Linked DNA regions of Homo sapiens. The protein of the gene in region 6 interacts with the protein of the main gene of each other region in a pairwise test. Each region holds a gene or a part of one and is shown on either strand. Other genes may lie near its edges.

Region 1 (3,500 bases), on a different chromosome or scaffold from region 6:
CTAGACCTCTTGGACTCAAGTGATGGATCCCGCCTCAGCCCCACCAAGTACTTGGGACTACAGGCGTGTGCCACCATGCCCAGCTAATTTTTTGTATTTTGTGTAGAGATGGGGTTTTGCCATGTTGCCAAGGCTGGTCTTAAACTCCTGAGCTCAAGCAATCCGTCTGTCTTGGCCTCACAAAGTGTTGGGATTATAGACGGAAGCCACTGCATCCAGCCTTACATAAGATTTCTTTAAATTCTTTTTTTTTTTTTTTTTTTTTTAAATAAATACCATGTTCCTGGCTGGACACAGTTGCTCACGCCTGTAATCCTAGCACTTTGGGAGGCCAAGGTGGGCAGATCACCTGGGGTCAGGAGTTCAAGACCAGCCTGACCAACATGGAGAAACCCCGTCTCTACTAAAAATACAAAATTAGCTGGGCATGGTGGCGCATGCCTGTAATCCTAGCTACTCAGGAGGCTGAGGCAGGAGAATCGCTTGAACCCAGGAGGCGGAGGTCGCGGTAAGCCGAGATTGTGTCATTCATTGCACTCCAGCCTGGGCAACAAGAGCAAAACTCAAACTCAAAAAAAAAAATTTTTTTTTGTAGAAATAGGGTTTCACTGTATTGTCCAGGCTAGTCTTGGACTCCTGGACTCAATCAATCCTCCTGCCTCAGCTTCTCAAAGCCTTGGGATTACAGGCATGAGCCACTGTGCCCACCCAGATTTATGTGTTCTTCTAGGTGTTCCTGTTTTAGACACAAACAATACTAGGTACATGGAAAATAAAACAACATGATCTTTCAGTCAGCAAAAAGGTATTTAATGTCTTTTCTTAAAGATGTTTAAAAATAGCTTATCACAGGCCGGGCGCGGTGGCTCACGCCTGTAACCCCAGCACTTTGGGAGGCCAAGGCAGGTGGATCACCTGAGGTCAGGTGTTCAAGACCTGCCTGACCAACATGCAGAAACCCTGTCTCTACTAAAAATAGAAAAAATTAGCCGGGCATGGTGGCTCATGCCTGTAATCCCAATTACTCAGGAGGCTGAGGCAGGAGAATCGCTTGAACCCATGAGGTGGAGGTTGTGGTGAGCCGAGATCATGCCATTGCACTCCAGCCTGGGCAACAAGAGCCAAACTCCGTCTCAAAAAAAAAAAAAATAGCTTATCACAAGAGATGAGGTTTAATATGACAATCTCAAAAGGATCACAAGGAAATCCATGATTAGATTCCTCATGGAATTGTGAAGAAATGTCCCAGAGTTGTAGTGACCAAACTTCAAGTTCCATGCAGGCAAGTCAGATCCCTTGTCTGTTTTGTTGTTTTCTGTACCCCGTACTTGGTACAAAGATGCTTAATAAGTAGTTACTTGCGTGAACAAATGGCACCTTTGAGCACCTTGTTTTAGGGTGTCAGAGTCTTTAACCAAGACCCTAGCATGAGGTAATAATCGACAAACGTTTCTTTTAGTTTAATGTTCATTAACTTGATCTTTATTTTGTAAAGTTATTATGTCTGATATTTTCCTTCAGTCCAGTGAAATTAACACTCCAGTTGTAGTAGGATTGAATGATAGGCAAGCAAAAAAAACCAAAATTAGCCAGCCCTTGTTACTTCTTTAGAAAACACTCAATTTTGATCTCACTTATTGGAGATTATATTGTAACTTGTTACAGTATAAATACCTAACTGAATTTCTTGTCATTTCTTTCCTCTTTTCAGAAGCTGGATTATATCACATACCTGTCCATCTTTGACCAATTATTTGACATTCCTAAAGAAAGGAAGAATGCAGAGTATAAGAGGTAGGCATTAATAGTTTCTAGGCCTCTCCTGGATTTGATTAGAAGATAATGTGAAGTTTTTGAGGGTGAAGTTCTGAATTTGTTGCCTGGAAGGCATACATGAAGGCATACTTCCAGGTTTATTGGAGGATGGGGTTATGAATGATGTGGTTTTAAAACCTTTGCGATAGTCTGGACGTGGACAAAGGTGTGTCTGTGGGCACATCTTCCATCTTATGCCCATAGTGTTCTTAATTTTGTCTCATTATAGAAGGAACTCTCCCACTCTGGGATTTCTGTGTTTTTGGAGTTTAATGGGAAAAAAAATTAGACTTTCTCAGATAGTGACTGAAGTGAGATGCTTAGGTGTGATGTATAAGTGAAAAATTTATGTTTTTGTTAATTACTCTCCTGATTAGTGATTTTATACCCTTCCCCTCTTTTTCTCATTTTCTTTTTACTGAAATCTTTTATGTGCAAAGTAATTAAGACCTTAGTATTTAGCATCATTTTATGAGAATAAAAGGAGGCGGGAAAGGTCAGAATCAAAATGACATGTTGGGAAAAAAGTCCATTGTAAGTTCATTTAAAAATGAGTATTGGCCGGGCGCGGTGGCTCACACCTGTAATCCCAGCACTTTGGGAGGCCGAGGCAGACGGATCACCTGAGGTCAGGAGTTCGCGACCAGCCTGACCAACGTGGAGAAACACCGTCTCTGCTAAAAATACAAAATTAGCCGGGCATGGTGGCGCATGCCTGTAATCCCAGCTATTCGGGAGGCTGAGACAGGAGAATCGCTTTAACCCGGGAGGCGGAGGTTGTGGTGAGCCAAGATCCCGCCATTGCACTCCAGCCTGGGTAAGAGGAGCGAAACTCTGCCTCAAAAAAAAAAAAAAAAAAAAAAAAAGAGTATTAAAAAGATAGCATTACTAGAATTATAAGTACTTTATATTCTGCAGGGAATAACAAGATACCAAAAATAGAAACCCTTTTTGCTTTGTCTGCATTGTGTGTTCCTCTGTAGATACCTAGAGATGCTGCTTGAGTACCTTCAGGATTACACAGATAGAGTGAAGCCTCTCCAAGATCAGAATGAACTTTTTGGGAAGATTCAGGCTGAGTTTGAGAAGAAATGGGAGAATGGGACCTTTCCTGGATGGCCGGTGAGCTTCAGTGGGATGTGAATGGTGGACATGCCAGGGAATTGAAGTAATTATTTTCCTTTATCTTGAGCTTCCACTTTAGGGCATTAGGTATCAATTCCTTGGTATCACTTGTGACAATGAGGTATTCCCTGCCAAGTATGCTATGTTTTTTTTTTTTGGAGACGGAGTTTCGCTTTTGTTGCCCAGGCTGGAGTACAATGGCGGGATCTCGGCTCACCTCAACCTCCGCTTCCCGGGTTCAAGCAGTTCTCCTGCCTCAGCCTCCCGAGTAACTGGGATTACAGGCACGCGCCTCCACACCCGGCTAATTTTGTGTTTTTAGTGGGGACAGGGTTTCTCCATATTTGTCAGGCTGGTCTCAAATTCCCGACCTCAGGTGATCCGCCCACCTCGGCCTCCCAAAGTGCTGGGATTACAGGTGTGAGCCACCGCACCTGGCCGTATGTGAGTTTTTTTGAGTGTACTTTGGAGCAAGACTGCCAGGGTCCACTTGCCTTTGACTGTGCCCAGATTTTCACCAATCACATCATTACTGCTATGTGGTTCCTGCCAACCAAGAG
Region 2 (3,500 bases), on a different chromosome or scaffold from region 6:
GCCTGCCTTCTCAGCTCTATTTTAGAGGAAGGGCTTAATAGTTACTTTTCTTCAGCTTTCTTCCTACTATGCCAATTCATATTTTATTCACAGTCAATTACATGGCTGTTAATAAGAAACATGACTGTACTATAAACACATAAAGCACTTACTTTGCCTGCAAAAAAGGCCAAGAAGTCTTAAAATAACAACTTTGGTAATGTGCATAAAACCATATAAAGTCAATACTAAGGATGTTACCAAAAGAAAGCAAGATAAGCATAAATTATTTCCAATTGGTGCAAAAGCTTGAATATACATCAATGCAAATGCTTGAAGGAAATATTTCAGGGTCAACGGACTGAGGGAGGGTTAACGGGAACAAAATGACTGTGTCAGAGTCGTGATATGTCATTTTTCATAACTCCTTTTCCAATAAATATGCCACTAAATGTGCACACCTTGATAGAATAAATCTCATGTCTACTGCCATTTTCTGTTTGATATATGATACTCCTTTTGATTATACTGCATTATCTAACATGTAATTTCCTTTAATAGACATTACTCATAAATCTTCTTAGGAAAGATCTATGTTCTAATGCCCAACTATAATTTTGCTAATCTATGTCCCACCAAGTATATCTTTCTTGCATTTTACTCCTGGACCTGGTATTTGAAAATTCATGCAAAATACATACCTCACTTTTGATAAAAAAGCTCTCTAGCCAGAAAATAATAAGTTGAAACATTATAGAGTGACATTTCAAATGCTTAATTTTCATGCAATGATATAAAATAATCCTTACAATACCATTGGATAAGATTATGCTATTTTTGTTCTAGTAAATGTCACTGAGAAATGTACCTCTTAGGTCGAATAAGGAAATCAAAAACAGTTTCCAATACAAAACAGCCCACAGAATTTTCATCCTGCACTTAAACATTACAGTATATCCAAAACAAATTAAAGTGTACCTCTTCTATTTTCTTCTGCATAATCTTCCATTGACTTTCCCATTCCTTTCTTTCATTGTCAAACTGGTCCAGTAATTCCATCTTTTCCTTATGCCAGTTAGTCTCTGTGTTCTCCCACTGCTTATGTAGGTCCATGGCAACAGTGTAAGTGTCAGCAAAGAAGTGTTTCTGCTCTTCTCTGCCTCCTCTTAACTGTTTCTTGGAAGCTTGAAGTTGTTTTATTTGAAGCAGTCTCACTTGCCTTTAAAATAAAGCCTAATATAAACATAACAAGAGAGAGTTCCAAATCCATGTGCTTTCTGGAAATATATTTTATCATTTTGTCGAGCCATTGACATAAACAAACTATAGGAAAATTGGACTCAAAAGAAAAGAGATGACAACAGTCTACTTAAGAAGAAGAAACTAACACAGTCAATAAAGTAATAAGTATTGTCCAAAGTTTTTTTCCCTTTCTGAGACCAGACAGCAAAATTATAGTGGACAAGATGATTAAATGCGCATGTGAGATGTAATCATCCCTTTAACCACTTACTCTAAAAATAGATTTTTTCATGAATAAGAGTGTAAGTATACAATTCAAATGTATGCTCACATCTACACACTGTGACAGATTCTGCTGCAATAAAATTATTCTTTCTGTTCTGATGCAACCTGATTATATATTCTTATGACTTAAATTCCTGAAACAGAGCTGGTTTGCAGTCTTAATTCTATATTCAGAGATCAAGCCTGTGCCAAATGTCATTACTGTGTTACTTATGAAGACCCCAAAGTTGGTAGTCAACTTAGGACTGATGTATCATCCAGAAACTAATCTAAATTATAAAAAATATATTCATTATGTCACTTCATCAAGGAAAATCTAGAAGCATCAAAACTATCCTGTGAAATATACGTTAAAATTTATCCATGCTCTCTTTTCCTTTGAATAGGCTATATACCATAAACTGCTTAGGATATTGAATACAGGGAACTGAAGAAAACATTTTGCTCAGTTTTCAGGGAATCCTCTATTACATTAAGTAGTGACTGAAATAATTAACTTTCTAGCCTTCAGGGACGTGTACTTAAGGTTTGAAGTCAGAATTTAAAATACCAGCTATGTAACTGGTATAAGTCTAAAATTTCTGGGATTTAGTTTTTTGCATTAAAATGGGGATAGTCATAGAACTGTTAAAAAGATTAAATGGCATACTGAATGCAAAGTAGTTTGAGAAATTTAAGAAAGTTTTCTATTTTTTGCTTTACAAAATTTCATTGTGACTTCAATTAAAAATAATTTTGTATTAAATAAGTCATGTGCCTTTTTAGGGGGTAGAAAAGCATGTTTAAAATGTTTGAATCTCTGTTTAAGATAATTATGCCTATAAGATGTCTAACTCTTCAGTCACTAAGCCATTATCAAAATGCTATAACTTACTGGTGGCAGCTAATGCTAATTACGGACAAAGATCCCAACAGTCAATAGCTTTGTGGGTGCTGGCACTGCCGAATTAAGGCCACATACCCAAGCAGCAAGTGCCAATTTTGTATTCACAGAAGATAACTGCATATTTCAAATCCTAAATATCAGCTAAATATCGAACACTAATTTTATTTTTGTCAGACTGTTGTGAACATACATATCTGACTAGTAAACAGTTTTGAATCTGTATTTTTTGAGTCACGATCAATGAATTAGAATAGAATAAGAAATGAAAAATGTTAGCTATATATGCAGGGTTCTACCTTCAAAACACCCTAATAATTTTGGGATCTATATTGTTACTTTACTCTCAAACTATTTACTAAAGATATTTTGATAATTTTTTCCTATGTCTTTGGCACTAGCACTATTATGATTAATTCAGTCACGAAAAATACATAATTTCATATCTGGCTATTAAAGGTGCTATCATATCTCATTTTATCCATTTGGCCATGCTCAATTTCTGACCTCATTTCTCCACCTCCTCTGTCACCCCTTTCTTTGCTATCTTTCCCACATATAAACCAGTAACCACAAGTACTTGCCATAATAAATGTCAGTGAAGAACAAATAAAATAAAGATGGTAAAGAACATACAGAGTTTTGGTTTTTGTTTGTTTTGGCTAATCTAATTTCCATTGATCTTGATCTTGAATACCTAGTAATCTTTTAGGTTCGTCTAACAATTCTTCATAGGAAATGCAGACAGTGCCTGTCTTGAAACTAGCAGACTGCTTTAAAACTATACGTAATTAACTGTGTGGTGAAACTACCTTGCTGACTAGAAAGTATTTGCCACTGGAACTTCTTAGGAAGAATGGTGTGGTTTGAGATAATAAGAGATAAATGCAGATTTAACCAAAGAAACTAAAAAAGGATGCAGACTAATTTCAAGCTACCTGGAAAAGAGGAGCTATGATAAATCCATGTTTTATCCCAACTGTCTTTAAACATTGGAAATGTTCAGAAATCACCATAAAGTCTTTTCTACAATTATGTAGCAAATGGCTCCAATTTTTCCTTCTATTCCTAACTCTTCTTGAATCGCTTCCATGCTACTGTTGAAAGATGC
Region 3 (3,500 bases), on a different chromosome or scaffold from region 6:
AACATAAAACTTTTTTTTGCGACAGTCTCCCTCTGTCACCCAGGCTGGCGTGCAGTGGCGCGATCTCGGCTCGCTGCAACCTCTACATCCCAGGTTCAAGCGATTCTCCTGCCTCAACCTCGCCAGTAGCTGGGATTACAGGTACCCGCCACCACGCCCAGCTAATTTTCGTAGTTTTAGTAGAGACGGGGTTTCACCATGTTAGCCAGGCTGGTCTCCTAACCTCAGGTGATCTGCCTGCTTCGGCCTCCCAAACTGCTGGGATTACAGGCATGTGCCACTACGCCCGGCCTGGATTTTAAGTAATTATTAGAAAGTCTGGTACTTGTGTTCCCAGCTGGAGTTTACCCTGGAGGATGGTAAAGGCATGGGCCCCATGTGGTCTTTGCTCTTCGGTTGTTGAGACACCATTTATTGCAAAGCCTATGCTTTCCTCAGTCTCAAAAAAAAAAAATCCAGAGCCATTAAAGAAAATATTAATCAACTTAACTATTTAAAAAAATAGCTTTCACATAACAAAAATCACAACAAGCAGAACAAGAAATAGCCGCCAGGCTGAGACCACCATTTGTATCCTCCATCACAGATGGAGCTGGTCTCCCCCGGCACCAGGGTTAGCGGAAAATGGTCAGGAGACATGAGCAGAGTCCACTGAAAAAGCAATGCAGACGTCCTCATGCTTTGTAAGAGGTCCTCGTCCTCACCCACATTGAGACGGAGGTGCTCCCACCCGTGTCACCGAACTCCAGCGTGACACCCTCTGTGGGGGGCTGTGGAGAAGTGAGCACCTTCACGCCATTGGCAGGAGGGAAGGTGGACGGCCCCCATTGAGGAGGTCGCCGAGATTTATCAGCATGACAGCTGCACCTACCCTCTACCCAGCAGTCTCTCTCCTAGCTGGATATCCTAAAGATGCGCTGAGGATTCAAAAGGAAGATGCGTGCAGGTTGTTCACGGAGGAGTTATTTATAGTAGCAGACGGTTGGAAATAACTCAGTTTCCATCACTAGGGACTGGCTGGGTTGACCGGGCAGTCAGGAGCGATGAAGGAATTCAGAAGAGCTCTGATCCCCTTGGGTATCGAGAAAACACCAGGATAAATTATTAAGTTTAAAAAAACAAGCAAGGGGCTGGGCACGGTGGCAGAAGCCTCCTCATCCCAGCACTTTGGGAGGCCAAGGTGGGCGGATCGCTTGAGCCCAGGAGCTCATGACCAGCTCAGGCGACAGAGTGAGACCCTGTCTCTGAAAAATAAAATAAGTAAATACATAATTAAAAAGCGAGGTACATGGCTGGGCACAGTGGCTCACGTCTGTAATCCCAGCACTTCGGGAGGCCAAGGTGGGCGGATCGCTTCAGCCCAGGAGCTCATGACCAGCCCGGGCAACAGAGTGAGACCCTGTCTCTGAAAAATAAAATAAATAAATACATAACTAAAAAGCGAGGTATATGGCTGGGCACGGTGGCTCACGTCTGTAATCCTAGCACTTTGGGAGGCCGAGACAGGCAGATCACTTAAGGTCAGGAGTTCAAGACCAGCCTGGCCAACATAGTGAAACCCTGTCTCTGCTAAAAGTACAAAAATTAGCCGGGTGTGTTGGCATATGCCTGTAATCCCAGATGCTCCGGAGGCTGAGGCAGGAGAATCACTTGAACCCAGGAGGCAGAGGTTGCAGTGAGCCAAGACTGTGCCACTGCACTCCAGCCTGGGAGACAGAGTGAGACTCTATCTTAAAAAAAAAAAAATGGCAAGGTACAGAATAGTGATTCTAGTATACAAGCTATTTTGTAAGAAAGAAAAAAAAATTATCATCTGGTTGCCCATAAGAGGAGCAGGTCAGTCAGGCATGAGACCACAGCTTTTCTGAGCTCGTCTTTTATAGTTTGGCTTTTGAACCACATAAATATTTTATATATTCAAAAAATACCATTTTAAAAAGAAAAAAAGCACCAAGCCCTAAAATGGAATACAACCAGAGGCCATTAAACTTAATGGGGTATCGAACCCAGAGGATAACCCCACACAGAAAGGGGCCGACTTCGATGGCGTGTGGCCGTCCCCTGCTAGCAGAATGCATGCTGAAGATAAAAGGGAAGCCTCAGGCTCACTCAGGAGATGGCCCCTGGGTGGTAATATTGTCTCTTGTAATCGTGAACAATTATATGCATATTGTAAGACAACATGAAGTAGGAGATATATTAAATGTCACAGGAAACAAAATAATTGGAGTAGGAGTGGGTGAAGCAAACACAAGAGAAGTGAAGAAAAAACCCTGGGCCGGGTGTTGTAGCTCACTCCTGTAATCCCAGCACCTGTGGGAGGCCGAGGACGCTATCCCCCTTCAGACAGTGACTCCATGCCCCCATCAGACAGTGACTCCATCCCCCATCAGACAGTGACTCCATTACCCCATTAGACAGTGACTCCATCCCCCGTCAGACAGTGACTCCATCCCCCGTCAGACAGTGACTCCATCCCCCGTCAGGCAGTGACTCTATCCCCTGTCAGGCAGTGACTCCATCCCCCGTCAGGCAGTGACTCCATCCCCCCATCAGGCAGTGACTCTATCCCCTGTCAGGCAGTGACTCCATCCCCCTGTCAGGCAGTGACTCCATCCCCCCATCAGGCAGTGACTCCATCCCCCCGTCAGGCAGTGACTCCATCCCCCGTCAGGCAGTGACTCCATCCCCCATCAGTGACTCCATCCCCCATCAGACAGTGACTCCATCCCCCATCAGACAGTGACTCCATCCCCCATCAGGCAGTGACCCCATCCTCCATCAGACAGTGACTCCATCCATCCATCAGACAGTGACTCCATCCATCCATCAGACAGTGACTCCATCCCCCATCAGACAGTGACTCCATCCCCCATCAGACAGTGACTCCATCCCCCATCAGACAGTGACTCCATCCCCCCATCAGGCAGTGACTCCATTCCCCATCAGCACACGCATGTTGACCTGGAGCAAACAGCTTAATACAGGTCTTCTAATGATTTGGGTGCAAAACCACTTATACTGGAAAAAAAAAAACAAAAAAACAAAAAAACACTAGGTATCTAAGAAATACATCTAGCTACACGTGCCTGAGCCTCAGAAGTCGTGTTGGAGATAAGCTCCTACTGGGTCAGCTCAAAGTAACAGGACTTTGAATTCTCCTTAAATTCACCTGTTAAACTCAATGCAGTTCTGATGCAAATCCGAAAAGCATGTCTCATAAACCCAGGACAGATTCTAAAATGGGCTCAGGGACAGAGTGGGTCCCAGGTCCCTGTGAAGCAGGTGGTGGCCCCAGATACAGGGCGGAATCGAGGCCCCGAGGCCCTGGGGCCAGGCTGGCATTGGGGAGCACGGTCACCGCTGCCCAGGAACAGCGGAGGAGGTGCCTCCTGGAGCTGTCCCTGGAGCCAGCGCCCCCAGAGTCCCAGGCAAAGCCAGCAAGGGCCAGGCCAACACGCAGAGCACCACATGTCTGGGGGGCTCTGAAATAAAATACA
Region 4 (3,500 bases), on a different chromosome or scaffold from region 6:
TTGTTCTGTACTAAGAAAAATTCTTCTGCCTTGGGATGCTGTTGATCTATGACCTTACCCCCAACCCTGTGCTCTCTGAAACATGTGCTGTGTCCACTCAGGGTTAAATGGATTAAGGGCGGTGCAAGATGTGCTTTGTTAAACAGATGCTTGAAGGCAGCACGCTCGTTAAGAGTCATCACCACTCCCTAATCTCAAGTACCCAGGGACACAAACACTGCGGAAGGCCGCAGGGTCCTCTGCCTAGGAAAACCAGAGACCTTTGTTCACTTGTTTATCTGCTGACCTTCCCTCCACTATTGTCCTATGACCCTGCCAAATCCCCCTCTGCGAGAAACACCCAAGAATGATCAATTAAAAAAAAAAAATCTTAGAAGTGACCAGAAGGAGGAAGAAAACCAATTATCTACAAAGGAATGACAACTACATTGACAGCTGGCTTCTCATCAACAATGATAGATGCCGGAAGACAAAGACGTAAAATTATGAAAGTGTTTGTTGAGAAAAAAAAAAACAACCATCAACCTAGAATTGTATGCCCCGTTAAACTATCATTCAAAAATAAAAGTAAAACTTGTAAAAAAAAAAAAAAAAAAAAAAAAAGGAATGAACACACAGATGCCCATGTAGCTAACATTTCTGATGTTTATCTATGTAAAGATTCTTTGTTATTATTTAAGTCTCTTTAAAAGATAATACTGTTTAATGCAAAACAATAGTGTTTTGTGGGGTTTAAACACACAAAGAAGTGAAACATACAACAATTATTGCACAAAAACTAGGAGGGGAAAAATAAAAGTATACTTTTGTAAGGTTTGTACACCAGATGTAAAGTAATATATCACCGGAAGGTAGAGAGTGATAAGTTAAATATGTCTACTATAAACGCTAAAGCAACAAAGATAAAAGCCACAGGAAGATGAAATTGTTTTAAAAATACAGAATTAATTCAAAAGAAAGGATACAAAAGGGAAAAAGGAACAAATGAGACAAACAGAAAACAAACAGTAAGATGGTAAATTTAAACCAAACTATACCATTATCCATTAAATGTAAATGGTCTAAACACCAATTAAAAGACAGAGATAATTACAAAGGATCAAAAGAACAAGACCTAACTGTACACTATCTATAAGAAACTCGTATTAAATAGGAAGACACAGTTAACCAAGTAAGTAAAAAGTATAGAAAATGGCCTCTCTTAAGATAAGACTAAAGAAAATGGCTGTTGACATAGTTTGATTCACAAGTTGTCACAATTCAGGAAGTATTTTTATATTCAAGAGTCCTTTTCAAGCCTTGAGATCTAAGTAAATATTAATACTAACTTATACTCTTCATAAAAGTCACCACATATGTGTTTACACATCACCATTTCAATTATCCAAACAGTATCTCTAAATACAGCATATTAGAGATTTCAAAGGAAATTCTCAAGTGAGCTAAGAAATTAGCAATCTGTTCTGATCAATAACCATGTGTTCTCAAAGATGGATACATATACTCAAAATTTTACCTCTATATAATGTGTGATTTTAATAAAATACTATCTATTAAGACAACAAAGTCTGAGCCAGATGACAGAAACAAAATGCAACCACATCTCACCACATCCTTTTCCTTTGGGAAGGAACTGGGGATTAAAAAAATGAATATACTACGCTCATGAGAGACAAGTATGCTAGGGAAAGAGTGGGAATACATTTGTGAAATGTCATGGTAGGTTGGATATTACACCTATAAATGTTTGCCCTACCTTCTCAATTTTCTACATGTGAATTGGTATTTCACCTAGGTTGTCAGGTTTATATATGCAGTTTTTCATATCATTCCATTATACTTTTGATATGAGTCTCCAGTGACATCCTGCATTTCACTCCTGCTACTGATAAATCTGTCTTCTTTTTGTCAGTCTTGCTAGAGGTTTGCAATTTTATTAATCTTCTTAAAGAACCAACATTTTGTCTCACTCATTTTCTCTATTTTTTCTGTTATCAATTTCATTGATTTTTGCTCTTTATTATTTCCTTCCTTCTACTTGCTCTGGTTTTATTTTGCTCTTCTTTTTACAGATTCTTAAAGTGGGAGCTTAGATTGTCCATTTGAGACTTTTCCTGTTTTCTGATGTATGCATTTCATTCTATAAATTTTCCTCTGAAATTTAACTGCAGACTCAGAAAAAGAATAAGATATGGCCACAAGTTTGGAAATAAATAGCAGAAACTTTTAAAATGACCAAATGGGAAACACAACAATTTACCAAGAAAATTCTCCAAGGTAAGATACAGAAAATATTCAAACTCAGCTTAAACTCAAAACAAAATGACTTAGACTGAGTGACTTCAAGTAAATAACCATTTAGTCAGCCATGTAGTAAGAAGGAAAAACCCTGCATGTGGAATATAGCCCACTCAATCTGCATTACAGATAATACGAGACAGGGAGCAGGCAATGCAGTGGGGCACAGAAGAGTTAACAGAGCCACATTTTTCCAGTTAGTAGTCTTAGAGGAACTTCTTTACTACCCAACCAGTTTCACGGATTCCTAAATGCTGCCTAACAGGAGCTGAGGCTGGGCATATGTGACGGATAAATGTACAACCATCATGATTTCATTTCTGCAGGTTGCCCCACCCCATGGAGAAATACTAATTTCTAATATAATATATGGAAGAATAAAATATCTTCTTTCTTACCCTCTGAGCTTTTGCGAGTTCTTCTTTTAATCGTTCATAGCCCTTTTCTCTAACTTCCAAAACAGATGGGCTTCGTAAACGAGACAGACTATCAGTACTCAACCCAAAAATATCATCACTGCCATCGCAAGCCTCTGTTATAGTAGCACCCTGTAAAAACTCTCTCTCTGCATTATAGTTGTCCTTTCTTGTAGTTAATTTAGTTAATCCAGCTGTGACTCCAGAGGTAGAGCAAGGGGCTGGGTCTGTAACATGAAAGCTGTAAAGGAGAGAGACATTTTTCAGAAAATATCAGCATATGCTCCAATAGAACTGGCTTAAACACACAGCTCTAGAACTGTACTACCCAATTTGGTAGCTTCTATATTTAAATAAATAGTATGTCCTCAGTCATATCAGCCACATTTCAAGTGCTCAATAGCTACATGTGGTTAATACCTATCATTCATATTAGATAGCACAGAAATAGAACATTTTCATCAACACAGAAAGTTCTACAGGACAGTGCTACTCAAGAGCAGGGGTTAACAAACTATAGCCTACAGGCTAAACCAAGCCTTCCACCCGTTTTTATAAGGTATCAATGAGCCAAGTATAGTTTTTACAATTTCAAATAGTTGAAAAGAAATCTTTAAAAGAATATTTTGTGACACATGAAAATTAAATGAAATTCAAAATTCTGCATCCATATATGAAGTTTTATTGGAACACAACCACTCTCATTCATTTACATACTGTCTATGGCTGCTTTCAAACTCTAAAGGCAGAGTTGAATAGTTGCAACAGAGACTGCATGGCTTGCAA
Region 5 (3,500 bases), on a different chromosome or scaffold from region 6:
ACAGCTCCTAGAGTGGAGTATTTTGGGCTGAGACGATGGGGTTTTCCAGATATTGGATCATGTCATCTGCAAAGAAAGACAACTTGACTTCCTCTCCTCCCATTTGACTACACTTTATTTCTTTCTCTTGCCTGATTGCCCTGGCCTGAATTTCCAATACTATGTTGAATTAATGACTCAATATATGACTAAAAGTTCAAAGTGAAACAATGATAATTCAGATAGGAAAATATGTGGCAGTATGCTAAAGTCTAAAAAGGAATATAAAACGTCTGTGAGATACCTAACATCAGATTTATAGAAACAGAATAGAATGTAGGTTGTTGGGGGCTGCGGACAGGGCGAAATGGGCAGTTGCTTGTAGAAGGGGTATAAAGTTTCAGTTACACAATTATGAGTAAGTTCTAGAGATCTGCTGTCCAACATGATGCCTGTAGTTAATAATACTGTATCATGTACTTAAAAATGTGTTAAATGGATAGATCTTATGTTTTCTTCCACAATTGAAAAAAAAAAAAGTCCTATAGAATCATTTGAAATGATGGGTTTCTTGGTGGCAGGGGGGCTTTAATGAGATCTGTACCCTTTCTTGCTTGATTTCCCAAGTTTAAGATATTTTAATGAATAAGAAGGCACTTTAAATAGACTTTAATCCAGCTTTTACAAAAATTTAATAAAGCAATATATTAATCTTAGGCCATTTTTGATACCTTAATTTTATCCCAAGAAAGAATAAAACATATTCTATTTTTAGTAAGTAGAGTGCCTCGCAGAAGAGGAAACAAGTCAGAACTTTTCTGTTTTCTTAAATGTTCTCTAGATTGGGCAGCATATAAAACTCTCCTTTGAAATTTAGAGTGCACACCAGCCTATTAAAGTCTCAGAGAAGTCTAGCTGTAAAGGAACTTGTTTAACTTTATTTACTGGCTTTCTTAACATTTCTTTAACTTTGGAAGCCTTTATCCCCAGGAACTTTAACATCTCACAGGCCCTCATAACTGAGGAGCACAGTTATGGAATCAGCTTGTCATTGCCAAGGTGGCCCCTTCTTTCTTCATACAGGGGATAATGAAACCTATGCTGTGTCATATGCAGAGAGCTAAAGCAAAGTGCTAGGAGATTAATGTTCAGCCAGGCCTTTCTTGTTTTTAGGATGACAAAAAGGATTTGTGTACCTTCTCTGGAGAAAATAATTAGGTTTATTCTCCTTCCCCTTGCATGTGTTCTGACTTACCTATCCAGGTGACCAGATGGCCTAGAACTGTCTTAGGTCTTTTAAAAGAATGTGCAAGGGACTAAGCCACTGTTTGTAGTAACTACTGTTTTACAAGAAAAATTTCTAGTGTTTTTAAAATAAGCTTTTAAATAAGCCATTAATTCTGAAATACCAGTGCCACTGTAAACCTATAAACAAATCCAAATGTTCTCTTAATTAAATCAATGTTTATTATATCTCATGAATTTTAACAACAAAGACGTGGGAAGACCACAAAACAATGGACAAACAAAAAATCAGATTGATTAGAGAATTTACATAGGAAGAGTTGAGAGTTTTTTTAAACCCACAGGAAAAAGAATTGTGATCATTTTTAGCAGGCTAGTAACATTCTTATCGATACAGGAAATAAAGAATATTTGGTTTGACTATATGACAAAGTAAAAATTTCTGCTTTGCTTATAATGCAGCCAAATACAAAATCAAACACTGGGTAAACACAGCAAGTAGAACAAACGGTTAATGTTTATATTTTTTGAATAACTCTTGTAATTTAAGAAAACTATCAAACCCAGTTAAATGAGAAAAGGATAAACAGTTCACACATGAGGAAACTGTTGGTCGTCAAAGGAATTCGTTTCCTTTGACTAAGATTTTTTACCCACCTGCCCTCATGCTGTGCCTGGTGTTGGCATTTCAGCGGGAAGACACTCTTTGTCCTGTGGGGAGAGGGAGGCAAGGGACACATTTAAAACAGTTGTCAAGACATCATACATGAGAAGAGAGAATGAAATAATAAGGGAAAAAAATATTAGGAAGGCAGACAGGTAGCAGTTTTTTTGTTTGTTTGTTTGTTTTAAATCAGGAATGTGAGCTGAGTAAGATACTTTGACAACTGTTCTTAAATTTGTTAATAGTATTGGCAAAACACTGCACACTGCAAAGTGGTTCAATTTTATTGATAATTCCTAAAATGACAAACTTTTTTTCTTTAGTTTTGCCTCAGAAATTATCCTAATGAAATAATCCAAAAAGAAAAAAAACAGGACAGAAAAACAGCGCATATATTGAATAGGGCTTGGCAACTAAATAGGAATTTTTAATGTAATGGAGCATGAGTTCATGATTAAAATTATGATAAAAATAGTTGTAACATGAAACACTGTCATGATAGGTGACTGTAGTTGCATTTGTGTTGCTTAATTCATTTCTGTAAAATAAGCCTGTGTACTTCAGTAAGATTATGATATGTTAAAATTTGTTTTGTGTAATACTTACATACTTACTAGAAGAAATGTTGATTCATTTTATTACAAGTGATTTTTTGCCCTTTTTTAGCTGACTACACAGACTTAGTCTTCTCCACTCCGTGTTCCTGCAGCTAGAGACATGACCTAACACCCTGATGACCACTCTCAGGGACCTTGAGTGACTGGCCGGTGCACCATGGAACTTAAAGTATGGGTGGATGGAGTTCAGAGGATTGTTTGTGGAGTCACTGAAGTCACAACTTGCCAGGAGGTTGTCATAGCCTTAGCTCAAGCAATAGGTGAGTGAACTCTGTGGGTATCTGAGAAAAGTACATTGTGCTTTCTTTCGTTGTATGTGTTTGTTTTAAATATAGATTTCTAGGGGATTTTGTTCATTTGGTTCCATAATAAGTCTCACAGGCACTCTTGTACTTATTACAGTTTGCCTGTGTTTAGGTACATCTGTGATGATGCTTGTTCTCTGACACCCCTAGATTTTACTAACCCTGAGTTAACATCTACACTGCCTTCTCCTCTCCTGTTGTTCAGCCTAAACAGTGACTTCTGAAACTAAAGATGTTTCCATGAGCCAAAATTTAGACCCAGATTAAGAATTTAGATTCTTAGTTCCCAGAATCCCTCATTAGGAAAAATCCCACCTATTGTTTATTTCTCCATACTTTCAGAAAATACAACAAATGAAATAACATCGTTCTTCACTGGAAAGATAATGTATACTTTTAAAATCTTATGATTGGCTGGGCATGGTGGCTCACGCCTGTAATCCCAGCACTTTGGGAGGCTGAGGCAGGCAGATCACTTGAGGTCAGGAGTTCGAGACCAGCCTGGCAAACATGGTCAAACCCGTCTTTAATAAAACTACAAAAATTAGCCGGGCGTGGTGGTGCGCACCTGTAATCCCAGCTACTATGGAGGCTGAGGAAGGAGAATGGCTTCAACCCAGGAGACAGAGGTTGCAGTGAGCCAAGATCATGCCACTGCACTACAGCTTGGGTGACAGCGAAACTCGGTCT
Region 6 (3,500 bases):
CACGTCTTTTCACCAAGCTAGCAGACCCTCGGGGGTGGAAGCGTACGGGAGGATGTTAGAAACGCTTGGACACCAAAGGCCCACCAGAACCTGAGCTCCGTGAAGTCCAGACGCGGGAGAGAAGCCCCAGCTGCCTGTACGTCTGAGGTTGCTGGTCCTGGAATTCCCTTGGAATTCCCTTGTGGCCCCGACACCCTGAGTACCAGCTCTCCCAGGGTCCCCTTGGAGAGAACCACCCAGGCCTCCCTGCAAGCAAACGTCTCGGTGCGTGTGGCCTTTGTGCCAGTCAGCAGGCTTCTCCTGCCCTGTGGAACTGGGACCTCAGAATCTCAGAAGGGCCCGCATGGCTGCCATGGCCAGTGTCAGATGCAGCCCAGCAGAGAGGCCCTGGAACTCAGAGGACTCCCAAAGTCCGTGAGCACAGTGTCCTCAACAAAACCCCCCCTCACCACACCTTCCTCAACAAACCCCTCACGCCAACTGGCTCTGGAGGACTGTGTCCAATTGCGAGCTGCCTTGGATTTAGGTTATGGTCCTGAATGCTGCTGCCACCACCTCCCTGAAGTGGCTCACAAGTCCTCAGCCTCCGCCGGAGCCCCAAGTGCCAGACTCCCCCTTCAGCCGCACAGCCTGGGCACTCGGACCAAGCTGCCACCTTCCCTGTGCTTGCCGGGGCCAGGTAGGACACGTCTCACAACAGAGCCTTTTCCGGGGGCGCCCTTCTGCAGTGATTCTTGCAGTCCTGCACTCTGCTGTGTTCTGCTCACACCAGGCAGGGGGAGAGGGAGCGTGGCCCCTCTGGGAAGCTCCCAGGACGGCAGGGGTGGGTGCTGCCCTACAGATACAGTACCTGCTGCACAGGGAATGGACGCCTCCTGGACGGTGGCCCCAGCCCAGGAATGGCTGGGACACCCACTCCAGTCTTGCCCACAGTCTGCTTCCAGAGGACACTTGCCCCTGCCTCTCCCCACCCCCACCACGCCCTGCATCTCGCAGCCACCTGGAAGGAGATGTAGACCCCACTGTGGTAAGGAGCTGTTCAGAGCCCCCGGAGCCCTCCACTTCCTACCACGCAGACATCCTGCTGCTGTGCGACACAGATGGACCAGGGCTTGTCCTGAAGGTCCCAGGATGCACATTCCTCAGGGATGGCTACTCTCCTCCCCCTCCCTGTTAACAGACTGGTTTTCCATGGACTCCTTTAAGCCCCCAAGTCTGGCCTCTGGTCAAATTTCAAAGACATGATGGGGTGGTCTGTTAAGACTGAGTAGCTCATGTGGCACCAGGTGAGGGCTGCTCAGGCCTGCATTAAGGAGGGGAGCCCGAACAACGGGCCTCCCCCTTCCCCCCACCCACAACGAAGCAGCTGCTGCTGGCTCCTCTCCCAGAGACTGGAAGAGAATTGATGAGAACACCGGGGACCCAGCAGTTCCACTCCCAGGCCTAAATCTAAGAGGGCAAAGTCAAGCCTCCACTCAAAACCTTGTGTGTGCACACACTCCCGGCAGCAGGATTCACAACAGCCACGGAGTGGAAGCAGAGCCAGCTGTCCAGTGGAGGATGAACACACAGCGGGGAAGACATGGGCCGTGCAACCGCGGCTGCCACAGAGAAAGCGCAGGAGCAGTGCATGCTGCGTGAGAAGCTGGGCACCAGGCAGAAAGCAGAGTCCGGGAGCTGGGGGAGGAGGGGACAGCAAGTGCCTGCTCAATGGCCCTGAGGTTTAAGGTGATGGAGCTGATCTAGATAGAATTGGGGGTGATGGCTGTATAACTGGGAATACACTAAAATCCCTGACTTGTACACTGTGGCCACCTGAAGTGAACAGTACACGCTTTCTGTCTCAGTAAAGCTACGCAAAGAACAGCAGACATCCCGCATGAAGTCAGCTCTCCAGGGCCGCACCATGGGAGCTATGGGCTGGCAGTGGCCGGCTCTGCTCTTGACACACAGGAAGGATGCAAACTCAGAGCCCCAGTGGGGTCACGGCCTTGCCCGGAGAACTCCCTCTGGGGATGGCAGCCTGCCGTCCCCTTGCCTAGCCTGGATGCCACATCCCGCGGCAGCGAAGCAGCCTCCTGCTTGACCGTCTGGCCCGGGGACCCTTTTGTCTCCTGGGTCAGTTTCATTCTTTCCCCAGGCTGTGCTCCTGATGAAGCAGCATCGTAGCTGATGTTGAAGGGCCTCACGCCAGCACCTAGGCTGGTCTTCCCTGGGTGCCTGCTTGAGCACGTGGCCCAAAACAGCCGTTGCATGGGGCACTCAGAACCCACCACACCCTCGCCCCTTCCCAGCCCGCCACCCTGTGGCTGAGGCCCTGTGCCTTGAGCAAGCTGCTGCCCCTCCTCCTCCTGGTCCAGTTCTGCCCACACCTGGGTGCCCACCTCCCCTCCCTGTGGTCTCCAGGAGCTGCCCCCAACATGCCCTGGGCAGCAGTGCTCATCGTAGCCCCGTCTGTGGCCTGGACAGGCTCTGACCACTCCTGCGTTGGCACAGCTTCCTCGGGAGGCTCCTGCCAACACCACTCGGCACGGTGGGCTCAACACGGCAGCGGCAACGGGTGGGAGTACTTGCCTCTGCCTGGCCCGAATGGCGGTTTTCCATTTGGATTTGGGGATGAGCAGCCAATGAGCCTATCTCATTCCCGTTAACGTGAGAGAAACATCCAGACGCTATCCTCAGGTCTCACACACCCCCGCCGTGCTCTGCACCACACCTGGCAGGGGCACCCCCGACTGTATGCTGGGCATCAGCTCCCAGGCCCGAGCGCCTCACCTCACACTGGGGATTGGAGCCCTCAGGCCCTAGAGACACTGGCTTGAGAAACTTTTGAGATGGAGTCTCGCTCTGTTGCCCAGGCTGGAGTGCAGTGGCATGATCTCAGTTCACAGCAGCCTCTGCCTCCTGCGGGTTCTGGAAATTCTTGTGCCTCAGCCTCCTGAGTAGCTGGAATTACAGGCGTGTGCCACCATGCCCGGCTAATTTTTGTATTTTTAAGTGGAGACAGGATTTCACCCTGGTGGCCAGGCTGGTCTCGAACTGATAACCTCAGGTGATCCACCTGCCTCGGCCTCTCAAAGTGCTGGGATTATAGGTGTGAGCCACCGTGCCTGGCCAAGAAACTTTTTAAAGAAAAAGTTTGCTCAACAGATAAGCTGAACCCCAGTCAGCAAAGGGCTTTGTAAACTGTCCTTGGGATGCAGCTCAGAGAGGAGGGTCCTCAGAGGGTGAGGTGCTGCCTAGGGGGCACCTGCAGCCACAGCAGCACCAGGCCCACACCCTCCGCAACCTCCCAGCCTATCAGGGACCTGAGGCGCAGATGGAAGTGGAGTTGTGGACACAGCAAGGGCCTCCACTCAGCCAGAGAGAAAGCAAGCTGCCCTGAGCCCAGCTTTCCGTGGCATCGTGGCCTCAGGCAGGTGTATTGTGAGTCTTGGGCCCCATGACAACTTGGTTGGGCCGGGCCAGCCTGCAGGGGGCAGAGAACAGCCAAGGGCCCA
Region 7 (3,500 bases), on a different chromosome or scaffold from region 6:
AATCTACTTTAACAACATATTGGAATTTTTATAGAATGTTTCTTATAATAGCTCTTTGAATGTAAATTTGATCAAAGAAAGCAAAACATTTATCATATGCAGTGTAAACATTGGCTTTACCCATTCAATAAAAAAGATCAGTGAACAAAAATTTGACCATGTTAAGCATTTTCATTGCTAAAGTTAAATTTTCCACTGTATTTTTTCTAATGAATATAAAGTAACCAAAGTTACTCCTCAGGAGTAAAAAACATGTAATTGGCATTCTGCATTCAGAATACCGAAAGTTTCACAACTTACTTCAAAATAGTTTCTACTTTACTAGTTCTTAATTCTTTTCTATTTCACATATCCGATAAATACAGCACACACCCAATGGCTTATTGCGACAAAAATTCTCAACTGTTCACAAGTGGGGGAAAATGGGGGAGCAGTATCAGAATTGGGAAAGGGGGGATAAATTACAAAGCCTTCTAAGAGAATAAAGCTAAATAAATCCTTCTGCCTCCAAGTAGTCCATTTAGTTGGCTGGGGAGGAAAGGAAAATAGGCAATGTTTGATTTTTTCCCCCTGCTTAGGTTTTTCCTAATTTAGGAGCAGGAAGAAGCAAGAAAAATTGGCACAAATCCCTCAGGTTAGGCAAGGGATTAAGGATTACTAAAATTGAGTAATAGAACTATAGATAGCCCTCCACATCCTAAGAGTCAACCAATGGTAGATTGAGAATACTAACAACAATAATGAAAAATAACAATACAACAATAAAAAATAACACAAATTTAAAATACAGTACAACAACTATTTACATAGCATTTATAAGGCATTAGGTATTATAAGTAATCTAGAGATGACAAAGTATATGGGAGGAAGTGCATAGACTAGACACAAATACTATGCTATTTTATATAAGGGACTTGAGCATCCATGTGTCAGAGGTGTATGAACCAGAGCAACTCCATCTTGAATAGGGGCTAGGTAAAATAAGGCTGAGACCTATTGGGCTACATCCCCAGGAAATTAAGGCATTCTTAGTCACAGGATGAGACAGGAGGTCCGCACAAGATACAGGTCACAAAGAACTTGCTGATGAAACAGCACTTGGTAAAGAAGCTGGCCAAACCCCATCAAAACGAAGATGGTGATGAAAGTGACCTCTGGTCATCCTCATTGTTCATTATATGCTAATTATAACGCATTAGCATGCTAGAAGACACTCCCACCAGCCCCATGACAGTTTACCAATGCCATGGAAACTTCAGGAAGTTACCCTATAGTATAAAAAGGGGGAAACCCTCAGTCCTGGGACTTGCCCACCCCTTTCCTGGAAAATTCATTCATGAATAATTCACCCCTTGTTTAGCATGTAATCAAGAAGTAACAATAAGTATAAGCAGCTCAGCAGCCTGTGCTGCTGCTCTGCCTATGAAATAGCCATTCTTTTGTTCCCTTACTTTGTTAATAAACATGATTTCACTTTACTCTATGGACTTGCCCCGAATTCTTTCTTGCACGAGATCCAAGAACCCTCTCTTGGGTCTAGATTGGGACCCCTTTCCAGTAACACATAGATTTTGGTATCTGAGGGGGATGAGACTCAAGGCATAATTTACCTTAAATTCCTGCCAGCTGTGAGCCTGTGAAATCAAACAAGTTATCTACTTCCAAAATTCAATGGTGGGACAGGCATAAGACAAACATTCCCATTCCAAAAGGGAGACATATCCAAGAAGCAAAGAGTAATAGGACCCAAGTAAGTCCAAAATTCAAGAGGATTACCTTGAGACTCCAAGATAATCTTCCCTGACTCCACTTCAGGGCTTCCTGGATAAACTGGGATGGAGGCTGAGCCTCCACTACCTCAGGAAGCTCCACCCCTATGACTTTGCTAGGCTCAGTCCCACCCCTATGGCGCCCCTATGGCTTTGCTCAGACTTCAGCTCTCCCAAGATGGCACTTCATGCTGGTAGCTCTACAGTCCTGAGGTCTCAATGGCAGCCCTGCTCCCATGGGTCCTCTAGGCATTGCCCTGGTAGAAACTTTGTGGCAGCTCTAACCCTATATTTCTACTGGGCATTGCTCTAGAAAGGCTCTCTGCAGTGGCTCTTCTCCTGGGACAGGTCTCTTGCCTGAGCCCCCAGACTGTTTTCAACAACCTCTGGAATCTAGGTGGAGGAATCCATGCCCCCACAGCTCTTGCATTCTACATGCCTACAGAATTAGTACCACCCCACAAACCCTCCTGAAAACCAATCTGACCTCCTAGAGCCCTGGGCCTGTGATGGGAGGGACAGCCTCAAAGATCTCTGGAATGCCTTCAAGGTTTTTTTCTAATTGTCTTGATGATATCTTCTATTTGTACAAATCTGCTCAGCAAAGGGTTGCTAGTCACAACGTTGGGTTCCTCTCCTGAAAATTCTCTTTCATTCTTTTCCACACAGCCAGGCTGAGAATTTTCCAAAATTTTCTACTCTTCTTCCCTTCTAATTATATTATGTCCTAAGTCATTCCTTTGCCCTCACATCTCTCTATAAGTGGCCACAAGTAGCCATGCAGCAGCCTGAATGCTTTGCTACTTAGTTATTTCTCCCACCAGATAGCCTAGTTCATCACTCTTAAATTCAGCCTTCCATAAAGTCCTTAGGCATAGACACAGTTCATCCCAGTTCTTCACTAATTAATAACAAGGATGGCCTTTACTCCACTTTCCAACAGGGTATTGCTAATTGTCATCTGAGACCTTGTCATAATGGCCTTTGCTATCCATACTTCTATCAACATTTTGGTCACAACCACTTAAATAATCTCTAAGAAGGTTGAGACTTTCCTAGTCTTCTCATCTTATGAGCACTCACCAGAATCACCCTTAACACTCCATTTACGGAAATATAGGCTTTTTCTAGACTGTTCTTCCAAACTTTACCAGCCTCTACCCATTACCTAGTTCGAAAGCTACTTCTATATTCTTAGGTAATCGTTATGAGCAACAGCCCCACTTCTCAGTACCAAATTTCTGTCTTAGTCCATTCTCTGTTGCTATAACTCAATACCTGAGACTGGGTAATTTATAAAGAAAGTACATTTATTTCTTACAGTTCTGGAGACTGGGAAGTCCAAAGTCAAGGGGCCCATCTGATGAGGGCCTTCTTGCTGTGTCATAACATGGCAGAGGTCATCACTCGGTGAGAGAACAAAAGCATATCAGCTCCAGTCTCTCTTCTTATAAAGCCACCCACCAGTCCCATCACTGGGGCACCATCTTGATGATCTTATCTAATCCTAATTACCTCCCAAATATCTCACCTCCAAATATCATCAACAAATGAATTTGAGGACTGTTTCCAACACCTGAAATTTGAGACACATTCAAACCACAGCAGTAGGTATCAGACAGTTTCTATGTTTTGGTTACAGAAATAAATAAATTAGAAACCAGAAAGGAGCATGAAGGCTGAAAGTACTGGGCAAGTCATATCGAATCAGAGTTAATAGCTTTGGTAGAA

What was found.
Region 1: the proteins of JPH3 (region 6) and SF3A3 interact in binary tests that used the Homo sapiens proteins (3 or more experiments, as listed by UniProt).
Region 2: the proteins of JPH3 (region 6) and KIAA0408 interact in binary tests that used the Homo sapiens proteins (3 or more experiments, as listed by UniProt).
Region 3: the proteins of JPH3 (region 6) and MLC1 interact in binary tests that used the Homo sapiens proteins (3 or more experiments, as listed by UniProt).
Region 4: the proteins of JPH3 (region 6) and RAB3IP interact in binary tests that used the Homo sapiens proteins (3 or more experiments, as listed by UniProt).
Region 5: the proteins of JPH3 (region 6) and RASSF8 interact in binary tests that used the Homo sapiens proteins (3 or more experiments, as listed by UniProt).
Region 7: the proteins of JPH3 (region 6) and GPR75-ASB3 interact in binary tests that used the Homo sapiens proteins (3 or more experiments, as listed by UniProt).

What each region holds. Positions count from the first base shown.
Region 1 is NC_000001.11:37,980,023-37,983,522, reverse strand, and holds part of SF3A3 (splicing factor 3A subunit 3), read left to right. Parts: intron 1-1,711; coding exon 1,712-1,794; intron 1,795-2,798; coding exon 2,799-2,937; intron 2,938-3,500. UniProt on the Homo sapiens protein: Component of the 17S U2 SnRNP complex of the spliceosome, a large ribonucleoprotein complex that removes introns from transcribed pre-mRNAs.
Region 2 is NC_000006.12:127,452,890-127,456,389, forward strand, and holds part of KIAA0408 (uncharacterized protein KIAA0408), read right to left. Parts: intron 1,213-3,500; 5' UTR 1,093-1,212; coding exon 958-1,092; intron 1-957.
Region 3 is NC_000022.11:50,064,927-50,068,426, forward strand, and holds part of MLC1 (membrane protein MLC1), read right to left. Parts: intron 1-3,500. UniProt on the Homo sapiens protein: Transmembrane protein mainly expressed in brain astrocytes that may play a role in transport across the blood-brain and brain-cerebrospinal fluid barriers. Regulates the response of astrocytes to hypo-osmosis by promoting calcium influx.
Region 4 is NC_000012.12:69,755,860-69,759,359, reverse strand, and holds part of RAB3IP (rab-3A-interacting protein isoform alpha 1), read right to left. Parts: intron 2,956-3,500; coding exon 2,697-2,955; intron 1-2,696. UniProt on the Homo sapiens protein: Guanine nucleotide exchange factor (GEF) which may activate RAB8A and RAB8B. Promotes the exchange of GDP to GTP, converting inactive GDP-bound Rab proteins into their active GTP-bound form.
Region 5 is NC_000012.12:26,052,682-26,056,181, forward strand, and holds part of RASSF8 (ras association domain-containing protein 8), read left to right. Parts: exon of another isoform or gene 1-315; intron 316-2,554; 5' UTR 2,555-2,662; coding exon 2,663-2,765; intron 2,766-3,500.
Region 6 is NC_000016.10:87,693,008-87,696,507, reverse strand, and holds part of JPH3 (junctophilin-3), read right to left. Parts: intron 1,872-3,500; exon of another isoform or gene 367-1,871; intron 1-366. UniProt on the Homo sapiens protein: Junctophilins contribute to the formation of junctional membrane complexes (JMCs) which link the plasma membrane with the endoplasmic or sarcoplasmic reticulum in excitable cells.
Region 7 is NC_000002.12:53,695,968-53,699,467, forward strand, and holds part of GPR75-ASB3 (GPR75-ASB3 protein), read right to left. Parts: intron 1-3,500. UniProt on the Homo sapiens protein: Probable substrate-recognition component of a SCF-like ECS (Elongin-Cullin-SOCS-box protein) E3 ubiquitin-protein ligase complex which mediates the ubiquitination and subsequent proteasomal degradation of target proteins. Recognizes TNFRSF1B.